Homo sapiens: one gene and its partner. The protein of the gene in region 1 interacts with the protein of each later gene in a pairwise test. Each region holds a gene or a part of one and is shown in the gene's direction. Other genes may lie near its edges.

Region 1 (7,270 bases):
TTGTTTGTTTGTTTTTGAGATGGAGTTTTGCTGTGTCACCCAGGCTGGAGTGCGGTGGCACAATCTCGGCTCACTGCAACCTCCGCCTCTCAGTTTCAAGTGATTCTCCTGCCTCAGCCTCCCAAGTAGCTGGGATTATAGGTGTGTGCCACCACACCCTGCTAATATTTGTATTTTTAGCAGAGACAGGGTTTTGCCATATTGGCCAGGCCGGTCTCGAACTCCTGGCCTCAGGTGATCCGCCCGCCTCGGCCCCCCAAAGTGCTGGGATTATAGGCATGAGCCACCGCGCCCGGCCTTCTTTTTGTTTTGAGATGGAGTCTCGCTCTGTTGCCCAGGCTGGAGTGTAGTGGCACAATCTTGGCTCACTGCAACCTCTGCCTCCTGGGTTCAAGCGATTCTCCTGCCTCAGCCTCCTGTGTAGCTGGGATTACAGACGTACACCACTACACCCAGCTAATTTTTGTATTTTTAGTAGAGATAGGTTTTCACCATGTTGGTCAGGCTGGTCTTGAACCCCTGACCTCAAGTAATCCACCTGCCTCAGCCTCCCAAATCATTTTTTTATCATTGAATAATATTCCATTTTATGGGCAGTTTATTTATCAGTTGAAGGACATTTTTGTTGCTTCTAAGTTTTGGCACTTATGAATAAAGCTGCTATAAACATTTGTGTGCAGGTTTTCGTGTGAACATAAGCTTTCAACTCATTTTGGTATATACCCAGGAGCGTGATAGCCAGATCATATGTAAGAGTATATTTACTTTTGTAAGAAACTGCCCAGCTGCCTTCCAAACTGGTTGTACCATTTACATCTGACCAGCAGTGAATGTGAGTTCCTATTTCTCTATATCCTGGTCAGCCATTAGTGTTGTCAGTTTTCTGATTTTGGCCATTCTAATAGGTGTCATATAGCGGTGTCTTTTTTTTTTCTTTTTGTTGTTTTAATTTGCAACTCCCAAATGACAAATGATGTTGAGCGTCTTCTCATATACTTATTTGCCATCTGAACATCCTCTTTGGTGAGATGTCTGTTAAGGTCTTTGGCCTATTTTTTAATGGTTGTTCATTTTCCTATTGTTGCGTTTTAAGAGTTCTTTGTATGTTTTGGATATATATCCTTATCAGATATATATTTTTCAAAGATTGTTTCCTAGTGTGTGTCTTGTTTTTTTGTTCTCTTAACAGTGTCTTTCACAGAGCAGAAGTTTTTAATTTTAATGAAGTCCAACTTAGCAATTTTTTCTTTTGTGGATTATGTTTTTGGCATTGTATCTAAAAGGTCATCACCAAACTCAAGGTTACCTATATTTCCTCCTATGTTATCTTCTACAAGTTTTACAGTTTTGTATTTTACAAGTAGGTCTGTGATCCATTTTGAGTTAACTTTTGTGAAGAGTTTAAGGCTTGTGTTTAGATTCTTTATTTTTTTGTATTTAGATATCTAGTTGTTCCAACATTATTTGTTGAAAGACCCTCATTTCTAAATTGAATTGCCTTGGCTGGGTGCAGTGGCTCACGTCTGTAATCTCAGCACTTTGGAAGGCAGAGGCAAGTGGATTTCTTGAGCCCTGGAGTTCAAGACCAGCCCGAGCAACATAGCGGGACCCCCATCTCTACTAAAAATAAAAAAATAAAAAAATTAGCTGGCACGGTGGCTCATGCCTGTGGTCCCAGCTACTCAGGAGGCAGGGGCAAGAGATTTGCTTGCGCGTGGGAGGTTGAGGCTTCAGTGAGCCTTGATTGTGCCATCGCATTCCAACCTGAGCAACAGAGTGAGACCCTGTCTCAAAAAATAAAATAAAACAAATTTCCTTTGCTCCTTGTATTTTTTTCAAGGTGAAAAAAAAGACTTCTTTCTGGCTTCCATTACTATATAGATGGTAGTGCCACTGAAATTGGGAATACAAGAGGAGCAGGTTTGGAGGAGGAAGATAATGAATTTAGTTTTAGATACGCTGATTTGGAAATATCTGTGGACCTTTGGTATTTTCAAAGAAGCAATATCCTTTCCTAGATTTCAGGAGTATAAGAAAATGAAAGATCATTTAGCTCAATGCTATGTGTATACACAAATGGAAATCAAGTTATCTAGGCTAGATGCACAGTCAGTGCTAAAAGTCAGCCTGACTTCTCTCCATTCAGGGTTCTTTCTACTGCAGAGAGAGGGCTGCTCTGGAACCACAAGGAGCCCTTCTGAGAGGTTTTGCCATTGCCCTTGAAATACAAATCTAACCCTAGCTTGTTCAACTCTGCTGCAGTTCCAACATAGTTCCTGGCCTTTCCCTGTTATTATAATGGCCTTTTACCATATCAAATTCAGTTTGGGGTTTAGGAGGTTATGACACTGTAACTGTTTTTGGGTTGAGAGAGTAATCTGCTCATTTAACCCTCTTATAGTCTGGAAGGCAAGGTCAAGGAGACAGTGCACAATGCCTTTTGGGACCATCTTAAAGAGCAACTATCAGCAACTCCCCCTGACTTCAGCTGTGCTCTTGAACTTCTGAAAGAAATTAAAGAGGTGAGTGACCTTCCATTTGTAAATGTAAAGTTTCTAGACATCTCCAGCTCATTGGAGTGTCAGTGGCTAGCAAATCTTAACTGAACATGGTCCATGAATCAGTCAGAGACTAAGCAATAGACAGAAATCATACAGTAATTTTAGCAGGGAGGGTTTAATATAAAAATTATTATAACAGAGAGTAGGAGAAATGAGGGCTTGGCTAGTAAGAGTAAGGAAAACTAAAGAATCCTTGAATATCAGATAAAAGGGCATCTATCATACCCTTAGGGCTGAGAGAGGCCAACCAAGGACCTCATTTGAGAGGGCATAGCTATGCCATGAGACGTTACTGGCCTGTGTATGCTGCTGACCACAGTGCACTGCAGGAACCAAGCACTGGAGAAGCTATTCATGCTGCAGGAGCCAAGTACTGCAGGAGCCTGCTGAGTGAACATACCAGAACCGGGAATAAAAGCTCTTGCCTTTGCAATGTCTTTCTAGTATGTGGCAGACATACCGTAAGGTGACCCACAATGTTCTGCACCCTTGTATAATCTTCTCCCCTTGAGTGGATGAGATTTGCAACTTCTAAGCAGTACGGCAAAAGTGATGGGATATAACTCCCATGATTACATTTCATCATGTAATACTCTGTCTTAGGAGACTGGAGGGAGAGATTCTCCTGCTGGCCCTGAAGAAGCAAACAGCTGTGTTGTGAACTGCCTATCGAGAGGGCCACATAGCAAGGAGCTGCAGGTGGCTTCTAGGACCCGGGGTTAGCATCCAGACAATAGCCAGTAAGAAGCTGGGGCCCTCAAGTATACAGTTGTGAGGAAATGAATTCTGCCAACAATCTGAATGAGCTTGGAAACGGAATCTTTCCCAGTCATGTTTCCAAATGAGAATGCAGCCCAGCTAACACTTTGCTTGCAGACTTGTGAGACCCTGAACAGAGGACCCAGCTAAACTGCGTCTGTACTTCTGACCCACAGTAACTGAGATCATAAATGTGTGTTCTTATAAGCTGCTAGGATTATGGCAGTATGTTACACAGCACAGAAAACTAAATAACACTTTCTGCCGGTGAAGCTTAAAATGTGCTATCTGGCAAAGGAAAGATATGGAAAGGACTTAGTTCCATTTTCACAGAGCAAAGAACAATGGATTTGGATCTGTGAGGCAATATATTGATAAATGGCACAGTCCACCCCTTCGGCTACTCAGTTTCCACATGCGCTCTTCTATACACATTTGAATTCCTGAAAAGAACTCTTACAAGACAGATAGCTATTTATTATTTATCCTCCCCCAAAATGAGGAGACATGGCCCAAATAGTTATTGTATCCATCACTGGCCGCTCCTCAAATTCAGCCAGTTTCACTGACTATTGTGTTACCTAAAGGCTAAATCATAAAATTTAACTTCTAACAACTTGTATATAAAATAACAATGGAAAGAAAGAGGAAGAACAAAATGTTGGCATATATAAATAAACATACATATAATAAGCAAAGATAAAATTTATAGTCCTTGTTTCCATAACTGGTCACAAGGCTATAGTTGTTATCTATGGCTTCCTTCTTCCACGATTCATTCATTCCATATTTCCCTTGTCCTTGGCCAGAACTTCAGCTAGTTGGGGTTCTTTATCTGGTGCAGTGACCCAAACCTTCATTGCCAAAGAGTCTGAGACATTTTGCTTTGTTTGTTGTGGTTTTCCATTAACCTTTAATATTGAGCTTGGAAGTACTAAGAGGCAACTCAGAGAATCTCCTGAGTTTCAGGCATGGTCTTTCTTACCCCCATTGTGTGGCCACAATCCAATTTCTCATTGGTACTCAGGAGCAAGTACGGCATCCAGTACAGTAACTCCTTTTTTTACCCTTTTGGTTCAGTGGTATAAGGAGCCCCCAATGGTCAGTTTCATCTTCTGTTTCATTGGAACCAATGCAAGTATTTCACACAAATCAGCAGACCTCAAAGTTGGCAGGATGGGAAACAAAAATCCTGCAAGTGGGTTATCAGGTGTGCTAGTAAGAGGAAGCAGTCCTACTTCTACTGCTTGATTCCTGGACCCATGTATTCTGGCATTAGGGGACAGCACCATAGAATGGTCTTTGAAGCCAGGCACAGTGGCTCACACCTGTAATCTCAACACTCTGGGAGGCTCAGGTGGGCAGAATGCTTGAGTCTAGGAATTTGAGGCCAGCTTGGGTAATGTGGTGAAACCCATCTCTACAAAAAATAGAAAAATTAACTGGGTGTGGTGGTACATGCCTCTATTCCCAGCTACTCAGGAGACTGACACGGAAGGATTGCTGGAGCCTGAGAGGCACAGGTTGCAGTGAGCCATGATTGTGTCACTGTGCCCCAACCTGGGCAACAGAGCAAAACCCTGTCTCAAAAAAAAAAAAAAAAAAAAAAAAAAGTCTTTGATTCAAAGCATATATTGCATCCTGTAAGACCAATTCCCTTCCTTTCAGGTATTGTTGCTCACCTAATGCTGTAATTGAGTCTAAAATAAGCCATTCTACTTTTTAGTTAGGGCCAGCTGATTCTCAGTGAAAGCTTTTTGGTCAGACCAGTTAATTTAGTAGGTATGAATTCACTGCATTTCCTTTGCTGTGAAATGAGTTCCTTGAGCAGATGCAATGCAATGGAGTAGGCAAAGACCCAGGACAGCTGATAAGGCATTCTGTGATTATCTGGATGCTGGTACTGACAGAAGCATGGCAAACAGGGAAGACAACTCCATATCCAGAATATGTGTCTATCCCAGTAAGGATGAATCTCGCCCTCTCTAAACTGTTAGAGGTCCAGTGAAATCATCTGCCATAAGATGGCTGACTGATCCTCCCTGGGGAATGGGCCATATTGGGGGCTTTAAAAAATTTATTTAATTTTTTTTAGGATTTGTTTTTGTTGTGGCAAAATATTCATAACAAAATTTACTATTTTTTAGTGTTACAGTTCACTGGCATTAAGTATATTTACAATATAACCATCACCACTATCCATTTCCAGAACCTTTGAATCTTCCCTAACAGAAATTTTGTACTCATTAAACAATAATTTCCCTTTCCCCTCTCCCACTAGCACCTGTACTTTCTGTCTCTATGAATTTGACTACTCTAGGTACTTATAAATGGAATACAATATTTGTCCTTTTAGTTTTGGACTTGTTTAACTTAGTGTAATGTTTTAAAGGTCCATCCATATTGTAGCATATATCAGAATGTAATTCCTTTTTATGGCTGAATAATATTCTTATTATATGGATAGAATACATTTTGTTCATACATCTGTTGATGGACGTTTAGGTTCTTTATGCCTTTTGGCTATTGTAAATAATGCTGCTGTAAACCTTGTGTACAAGTATATATTTGAGTCCCTGCTTTTAATTTTTCTGGGTATATACCTAAAGTTGGAATTGTTGGATCCTATGGTAATTCTATGTTTAACTTTTTGAGGAACTGCCAAACTGTTTTCTGTTGTAGCCACACCATTTTATATTCCTACCAGCAATGTACCAGGGTTCCAATTTCTCCACATCCTAGCCAGCATTTGCTGTTTTCCATTTTTGGTAATGGCCATTCTAATGGGTGTGAAGTGGTATCTCATTGACTTGCATTTCTCTTAATGGCTAGTGATATTGAGCATCTGTTCGTGTGTTTGTTGGCTATTTGTACATCTTCTTCAAAGAAATGTTTACTCAGGTACTTTGTCCATTTTTAAATTGGATTGTCTTTTATTGAATTTTATGCTTTTGGTGTCAAATCCTGCCAAATCCTAGATCATGAATATTTACACCTATGTTTTCTCCAAAGAGTTTTGTAGTTTTAGCTCTTATGTTTAGGTCCTTTTTTTCTTTTTTCTTTCTTTTTTTTTTTTTTTTGAGACAGAGTCTTGCTCTGTCACCCAGGCTGTAGTGCAGTGGTGCGATCTTGGCCACTGCAATCTCTGCCTCCCTGGTTCAAGCTATTCTCCCACCTCAGCCTCCCAAGTAGTAGCTGGATTACAAGTGTGCACTATCACGCCCGGCTAATTTTTTGTATTTTTAGTAGAGATGGGGTTTCACCATTTTGCTCAGGCTGGTCTCAAACTCCTGACCTCAGGTGATCCGCCTGCCTCGACCTCCCAAAGTGCTGGGATTACAGACGTGAGCCACTACCATTTTGAATTAATATATATATATATTTTTTATTATACTTTAAGTTTTAGGGTACATGTGCACAACTGAATTAATATTTTTATATGGGGGTAAGGTAAAGGTCCAACTTTGTTCTTTTGCATGTGAATATCCTGTTTTCCCAGCACCATTTGTTGAAAAGACTGTCCTTTCCCCATTGGTTCTTGGCATTGTTGTTGAAAATCATTTGACCTTATATATCCAGGTTTTATTTATCAGCTCTCTATTCTTTTGGTCTGTGTATCTGTTCTTATTACCAGTATATGCTTGGTCTCTTATAAGCCATTTTCATTTGATAATAGATTGCTGCTGTGCATGTCCAGTCTTGTAGCTACGTAAGTTAGACAATACCTAATTCCTGATGGGAAGCTTAGGCCACATGGTTACCCAGTGTTCTATAGTAAGGTGTTTACTTTCTACCAAGGCCCAAGAAGTTGTTTCTCAAAAGGTGAATAATTATCATTAAAGAAGGAATAGATTTGCTCCCAATTCCTAAAGGTCCATGTGTGGTTCCCTTATTGGTGCTTGCAAGACATTCTGTACAGCACCCTTATTTGCTATGGACACTTAAAGTGT
Region 2 (8,197 bases), on another chromosome or scaffold:
ATGCACCAGAATCACAGTGCCACCTGCTGGACATAGGTACCAAGCACACCCTTTTTAAAAGGACAGCTATTAACTCCTTAGTTAACTACTCAACACTTTGAAATTGATTGCCAGACCCATAAAGGCCTCAGGACTCCCTGGCCTAGTATTCCCACTTTGGGGTGGGTCAATGGGAATCTACTGATAACAAGGGAAGGGTTTAACAAGCCTCACTGATCCTATGGAAATAGTACATTCAAGAGTACAGCTGGTAATCCCAGCTATTCAGGAGGCTGAGGCAGGAGGATGGCTTGAGGTCAGGAGTTCAAGACCAGCCTTGGCAGGATAGTGAGAACTCAGCTCTTAAAAAATCTGTTTTAATTAGCTGGACATGGTGGCACGTGCCTGTAGTGCCAGCTACTCAGGAGGCTGAGACAGGAGGAGCCCAGGAGTTTGAGGATGCAGTGAGCTATGATTGTACCACTCCACTCCAGACTGGGCAACAGAGTCAGATCTCATCTCTAAAAAAAAAAAAAAAAAAAAAAAAGAGTATAGCTAGCCTGGCCCTAGAGGCATCTTGGTTTTACGTGAAGAAGTGGCAGCTCCCACTCTGGGAGAAACAACCTTCTCTGCTACCTGAAGCCGAGCTGCTGTTCAGTAGGGCCCTTGATTCACAGGGGTTCCTGTAAATGCTTAGGCCTGGCTCACCAATGATTAGGCTGAGTTAAAAGCTGATGTTGCCCACCAAGCAGCAGCAGGCACTTAGCCCCAATGATAACTCTGGATGGCTGATGGCAGTAAGGATTGAAGCATTTGGTATGCCACTTGGAAGACTAAATACTGAGAGATGAAAGCTGAGAAGTGTGGAAACACATCATGGCTGCCTGCCAATAGGACAGACTGGATCACTCACGTAGGTGCCCACACTAAGGGCAGGTACTCTCGTAAGACTGACTGGAATCAAACTGCTGATCCAGCCTGCACCACCAAGACTGCTGCCATAGCCACCTGGATTCATGCAACCGGTGTGGAAACATCTACCATCATGGGCTAGGCACAACGTAAGGGACTACATGTTTCTGAGGCAGAAGCCACCACTGCGTGCCAGACTTGTGACTCCTGCCAAAAGTTGGCCTGCTTGTCTTGCAGTAAAGGAAGCCACATTGCAAGGGGCACTGACCACACCTGCTCCTGGGAGATTGACATTAGGACTTTGTTCCCTTCTCTAGGCTCTCATCAGTACCTTGCTACTGCTGATACTTTTTCAGTTTACAGTGCTGATGTTGCTTTTCCAGTCCAATTATCTGACTCTGTGTATACCACTGTGGCCCTTGAAACTAAACTGCCAGGTTTTCTGCTTTCCAAACCATCTACAGTCTGACACTGGCATATCTTTTTGTCGCAATGGCCACCCAACAGTGTCAACAGTCAATAGCCAAGGTATTCGATGGACCTCCCACACTCCCTACCATCCACAGGCATGACATTGTCAAGTACTGAACAGTTCCCTCAAAGATCAACTCAAAAAGATTTTTGATTCTATGTTTTTAACCTCCTCCTGGTCTGCAAACCTTACTGAAGCAGTTTGGTCACCTAAGGCAGCCATTCTCAGAAATGGGTCATCTCCTTTTGCCTACCAACTGGGTAATGATCAGGAAAAAGGGGTGGAGGGTTATATAAACCTATTTTGAAAATGTGAGATTCTCCCCTGACCATTTCTGGCCATGATTCATCTTTCTTCCCCCTTACAGAAAGCCCAGATCAGCTGGGAGGAGGAGGCTATCTATGTAATTCAGACTTAATTCTAGTTCAGTCACTAGATTGTCTTGTTGGAATGGCCTGGTGCCAGAACATAAAGTTAATGATCATTTGGTTGGGTATAGTGCTTTTAAAGTCCCCCTACAGTGGCCCACATGTGTCAAGGTAGAAGACATAATGGGCCTCTGTCAATTTTCTAACAATTGGATATTAGAAGGCCTGCGTATTGGTAGGGGATAAATGGAGAAAAGGTGAAGTTATAGTTACTAGGGTAGGACACACTCATTATGTAGCAATGGAAGGAAAGAAACAATCCTGGCATCTGGGGAAGGAACACCACAGGACCCTGGAGATGTAAAGAGAAGGGAAACAATGTTCTCTTTGTCCCTATCCAGCACCAAAGCCTGGCAAACATTCACATGGTCCATCTAGGTCAAGCAGCAACTGTGGCTGGCAATCTGACCTGTGGCTGAGTTTGTCATCTCACTATGAAAACATAAAAACTTTATCTAGCAGGTCAGTATAAAAAAGAAAATAAAAAAAGAAAACAAAAACTCACATGGACACGGCCAGTCTTGAACTATTCCCACGTGCCTGATGACATCAACACCAACTCCCAAACGCAGACCTCCCTCATAGGTGTGCAAACACACAGATCAGCACCACCTTCTATCAATGCGGCTGATACAAATCACATGCTTCTCCTGAGATCCTAAGGGCCTTACTTAGGTTATGCCTTGTCTAGTGATTGAGGCTGCAACTGTTCAGTGACACTGCCCATGTGGTTTAAACCACTGTAATGGTAATCAAATTTGATGGTGATCCAAATAAAAATCTAACAAAAATCCTGGAGTGGCCTGCACTCCTCCAAGTAATATGTTAGTGTAAGGAAGAATGGGTCACAAAATATCTTTCCATTAATCATGGTAGTTAATTTTTTTTTTTTTTTTTTGAGACAGAGTCTGGCTTTGTCGCCTAGGCTGGAATGCAATGGTGCGATCTTAGCTCACTGCAACCTCTGCTTCCCAGGTTCAAGTGATTCTCCCACCTCAGCCTCCCGAGTAGCTGGGATTACAGGCACCCGCCATCATGCCCGGCTAAGTCTTGTATTTTCAGTTGAGACGGAGTTTCACCATGTTGGCCAGGTTGGTCTCGAACTCCTGACCTCAGGTGATCTGCCCGCCTCGGCCTCCCAAACTGCCGGGATTACAGGTGTGAGCCACTGCGCCCAGCCTGGTAATTACTTTCTTAAAAAAATTTTTACAAGGGTAGTGGGCTATTGTAATTACTGGTAATGACACCAAAGATCAGAGATCAATCTGAACCCCTGTGCACAGGTCACAGTGGTTAATAGACTGGTCTTAGACTGCAGCCCAGATGTCTGAAATAAGATTCCTCGGTGCCCCCAGGACTTATTCACAAGTGGCTGAATCCAGGACCCTGGAGGGCATGGTTGAGGTAAATACTGTAAGCTGGCCTTATTCTGCTGCTTAGAGTCCCATTGACAACAACCTTAATTAAATGCTGTAAGGGACAAACTGAAAAGATGTGAGTAGCCAGGGGAGTTGTATATTCATGTGAAAATCTGCTAGAAGCCAAGACCATAGAATCGAGGAGTGAGAGAGGCTGTCAGATTGCTCGTGCCTCTACACATCATTCTGGGTATACCAAGAATGCAAGGCCCTGACTGCATCTCACCTGGGCCATTTCTCATGGTTGTGTTTGCAGCAAGCAACTTTGAGAGAAGAGGCAGTGTCTCCCTCCAGGACAAAGAGGAGGTCTGCGTACTGCCTTCTATAAAACAGCAGATTTTCCAAGCTTGTCGTTCCTTCACTTGGATGCAACCCACTGCCTGTGCAGTCATCCATTTAAACCCATAGCGTCACCCTGTGGGACTTGGATGGCAAGGGAAACTGCTTCTAACATGCATCCTATTTCCTGTAATAAAGTCCTTTGTCTCTAACCCAGGAGTCTCATCTTCTGCCAGCAGTCACGACACAATAACAAGCTAATTTATTAATTTCTAAATAAAGCAACCCTGACAGTCTGTTTTCTTGCCTGCTTTTTGCTTAAAGAATTCCATTTCTGACACCCAGTATCTGGATAGTACAAGCTAAAACCTTTAAGAAAATAAATCTCTTCTCACAAGAAGAGTTCTGCCTCATAAAATCCTTTGGTCACCATACCTGAACACCCAAACTGTCCTTGCCCTATAGGATAAAGGTACACAGTTAGGTATTTTCTCCTCTGTTGATGCCTGAAAATCCTGCAGACATAGGAACTCAGGCCTTAGAAAATTCTGTACCCAAAAATTTGCAATTCTCTTTGGAAAGTTGAAAGCACCTTTAAAAGCCACAATTTGCAAGCCAGGTGATGCACTGTAGCATAACCTGGAAGACATGAGGGCTGCTTCCTCAGATACTAAGAATCCCACTGCCCCACCACCAGAGCAAAACGATCCCCCTCCCAGAGAATGCACCTCGCCAGAGGCCAACCCACCCGATACCTCAAGTTCCCCTCCACCGTGGCCCTCCTCCTATAGATCCCGCCCCCTCCGTACCCTCGGGCCAATCAGAGGGCGGCGTCCCGTCGCGGTTGCCATGGTGCCCGCCGAGTCCCTCCCATCACTCACCAGATGTGCGGCGGCTCGTCCAAGCGGTGGAAGCGGGTGGCGAAGGACAGCAGCGTCACCAAGGCCAGCAGGGCCCACCAGCCGACCGCCTCGAAGCGCCGTGAGCCCCAAGCAGGCCGTTTGGGGCTTCGCGCCACAGCCTCAGCGGCCACGTCCCGGCCTGCGGCCCTAGCAGCCTGGGGGCCACAGCGGCCCCTCCGGGGACGCAGCTCGGACTCTGCCAGGCCTCCGCCCGTGGCCGGCGGCATCTTCCCCCTCCTCTGGGTCGCCCTCCGGCCCGGAGGCACACTTTGTCTGACCAGCCGCCCCGCCAAGGAGTCACAAGAGGGCAGCTCGGGGTACCCCGGGAAATGCAACGCCCTTCACTGCAGCGGAGCGCGGGGCCCCGGGCTCGGGGCGGGGCGGGCAGCGTGGTCGCGGCCCGGGCCGCTAGGAGGCGGCAGGAGGCGCAGAGCATGTCGGGACCGGGAGGGCCGGCCGGCCCGGGGCGGGGGGGACTGGGCAGGAGGGGTCGGGCTCAGGGAACTGCAACTCCCAGCAGCCCCCAGGTACGGGGCGTGGCGGGAGAGCTGGGCGAGCCAGAGGCGACCGGAAGGATCTTTCTAGTCCAGCCCCTCGCTTTACCCGGACGAAAGACACGGGCCTGATTCGTCGAGTCTCACTGAGCCTTAGTCGTCGGCAGGTCCCAGGCGCGAAGTTTCTCGGCCTGGAGGAGGGGGTCGCGCGAAGTGCCAGATGCAGGCGGGGAAGGTCTGTGACGCGCACCCGGGTGGAGGGAAGCTGGTTAGACACCTGGAGACCCTGGGGGGCGGGGTCAGAAGTGAGCTGCACCGCCCGCCCAGGCCGACAACGACTCCCGGCATGCAGTGCTTTGCGCCGGGCACGCTCTGCGCCTGCGTGCTGCGCGCTGCCCGCTGGGGCTCGAAGTTCCGGGAGGGTTGGGCCAGAGGAGGCGGTCCTGGTAGGGAGTGCGTAGCAGGGTGGAGTCGCTGTCCGGTCGCGCTTCACTTCTGCTCCGCCCTCCCTGCTCCCCATAACAGACCCCTCCCTCCACTAAGGCTTCCAAACGTCGCCCCAAGCCTCCCAATTTCTCGCAGCCCTTCATGCTCTTCTCTTGGCCCTAGCAGGAGGTGACCTTCCAGTAATGTTTGTATTTTAAGAGTCCCCGGGCCGGGCGCGGTGGCTCACGCCTGTAATCCCAGCACTTTGGGAGGCCGAGGCGGGCGGATCACAAGGTCAGGAGATAGAGACCATCCTGGCTAACACGATGAAACCCTGTCTCTATTAAAATACAAAAAAATTAGCCAGGCGTGGTAGCGGGCGCCTGTAGTCCCAGCTACTCGGGAGGCTGAGGCAGGAGAATAGCGTGAACCCAGGAGGCGGAGCTTGCAGTGAGCCGAGATCGCGCCACTGCACTCCAGCCTGGGCGAAAGAGCGGGACTCCGGCTCAAAAAAAAAAAAAAAAGGCCCCGAGCGAGGAGAGGCAGTCATGACAATCACCTGGGGAGCTTCACGGCTTTCACATGTTCTTCCCGGGGCCTGCTCCAGAGCCACTCTGTTCATCTCTGGTGGAACGGGCTCGAGAATCTGCATGTTTTTATAAGCGGTCTAGATGGTTCTTAACGTGCCATGAAGTTTGAGAACCACTTTTGTGGCACTAAGGAAGGTGGCACGTTAGATGGGACTTTGCGTCACGTTAATAATGTATAGTCCTCCCTCTTCCAAATGGGATTTTAGGAGTCTTTTTCTCAAATCATGTGTAAGACATGGTTTAAAAATAAAATCTGCTAAAGTAATCAGAATGCATATTTGAATTGGAAACACAGGTCTTCTAGGAGTGCTGATGAGATGGATACTTGGGCTTAAAGTTTAGTTCTACAAGTGCAGAAAGGAACGGGGCATGGTTTACATAGTTATCACTGGTAAGAGAAGGCAGAAATTGCCTAAGAGATTTCAGGTTTCCTGCTTGTGGGTCGTGACGGAGGGCAGCAGCATTTACCATGCTTCTGGTCACTCGTAGTACAGATCCAAAGGTGTAATCCAAAGGCATTTAGCCATTAGGTAAGGCATTTCTTCAGGGATTCTAAGCTAATTAATGTCTGCCACACTCTAGTGGTCACCAGCAGTCCCTGTCCCTTGGCACCAGGAGTCCCTGTAGCCTGGCTAGGTAAGGAAAGGGAGTTGCATCTCCAAATAAGGAAGATCCAGTTGTGGCCACCCAATTCCTCCTCTTCGAAAGACACTTTCTGCCCATCACCTGCTTTCTGTGCCAGGACCATCTTTACTTTCTCCACAAAAGGTACCTTCAGGACAGGCTGGGACTGCTGGGCTTGGGAACCATCTTGGAAGGGCCTAGGTTCCCACTTACACCCTTGCCATCTAGCAGACTGAGTTGGTAGTACAGGGATGGCAATAGCAAGTTCAGAGAGCAGCTTAATATGCTAGGGGTGGCAGAGGGGAGAGGGAGCTTTGGTGAAATGTCTATAGTCAGAGGGGTAGTAAACAGGGCATCTGAGAAGTTCTTTCAAGTTCTCCCCTATCCATAGGGATACACATGTTTTGGTGGGAAGATTCATGAGTGCTAATCACTGGCGAGTCTTTCCTGGGTTCCACTTTGAAATGCTGGCTCCCGAAGAAGTACCAGAGAAATTAACTTTGAGCCCCTTAAACCTTGGAGTAGAGATCGCACACCCAGCTGCCCCCAAGGGCCCAAAGGTAACAAAAATGAGAAAAGTGGGCCAGATATGGGCCATGGCAGACCTGAGAGCGCATACGCTGGTTGATGGGGGCCATTAGTCTGTTCCCATCAATTGCTGCTATTTAGGAACCCAAATCTGTCTCCAGATTTTTTTAAAGAAAAAAAACAAACAGGTGTTGTATATAAAATATCATGATTTTTATTTTTATTTTATTTTATTATTTATTTATTTTGAGATGGAGTCTTGCTCTGTCCCCCAGGCTGGAGGGCAGTGACACGATCTTGGCTCACTGTATCCTCCGCCTCCTGGGTTCAAGCAATTCTCATACCTCAGCCTCCCAAGTAGGTGTGATTACAGATGCACACCACCACACCTGGCTAATTTTTGTTTAGCCATGTTGTTTCGCCATGTTGGCCAGGCTGGTCTCGAACTCCTGACCTCAGGTGATCTGCTGGCCTCAGCCTCCCAAAGTGCTGGGATTACAGGCATGACCCACCATACTAGAATGAAATGTCCTGATTTTTAAACATTGGCAACTACTTGAAACATTTTAAACTACTGTGTTGAGCAAACAGAAATTCTGAGGGCCAGATAGGGCCCCAGTGAGCTGCCAGCTTTTGACCTCACCTTTGGGGTGAGTGAGCATATCTGCCAGCTGTTTTTATGGGGACAGCCGAGAGCCCGGAGGACTGCTGGGAGGTGGGGTTGAAGGAGATATGTACCAAAGCGTCAAAAAATTAGAATTCCTTGTCTTGCTGCATTGCTAGAGGATGCCCTGCCATCATTTTAGGGCAACCTTTGTTTTACAAATGAGGGAGCCGAAGATTTAAAAAGGCAGAGGTTTGTCCAAGGTCATGCAGAGCTGGTTCCTGCACCAGGTCCAGACTCCAGATGCCAGCTCCCAGCCCGCTCCACCACTCAAAATACTGCATCAAAACCAGGCCACGCTCTGTTGGGGGGACACCAAACCTGGCCCCAGCAGGAGCGTAAGAAACTTCCTGCGAGTTGGAAAAAAATGCCTTTTTTTTTTTTTTTTTTTTGAGACGCAGTCTCGCTCTGGAGTGCAGTGGTGCGATCTCGGCCCACTGTGACCTCCACCTCTCAGGTTCAAGCTATTCTCTTACCTCAA

What was found.
Region 2: the proteins of TCP11 (region 1) and GSTZ1 interact in binary tests that used the Homo sapiens proteins (3 or more experiments, as listed by UniProt).

Annotation. Positions count from the first base shown.
Region 1 is NC_000006.12:35,124,314-35,131,583, reverse strand, and holds part of TCP11 (T-complex protein 11 homolog), read left to right. Parts: intron 1-2,401; coding exon 2,402-2,522; intron 2,523-2,792; exon of another isoform or gene 2,793-3,006; coding exon of another isoform or gene 3,007-3,027; intron 3,028-3,164; exon of another isoform or gene 3,165-3,301; intron 3,302-7,270. UniProt on the Homo sapiens protein: Plays a role in the process of sperm capacitation and acrosome reactions. Probable receptor for the putative fertilization-promoting peptide (FPP) at the sperm membrane that may modulate the activity of the adenylyl cyclase cAMP pathway.
Region 2 is NC_000014.9:77,316,065-77,324,261, forward strand, and holds the start of GSTZ1 (maleylacetoacetate isomerase), read left to right. Parts: upstream 1-4,971; 5' UTR 4,972-5,104; coding exon 5,105-5,119; intron 5,120-5,202; exon of another isoform or gene 5,203-5,499; intron 5,500-6,482; exon of another isoform or gene 6,483-6,668; intron 6,669-8,197. Other genes in the region: POMT2 (protein O-mannosyl-transferase 2), read right to left, coding at 4,370-4,617.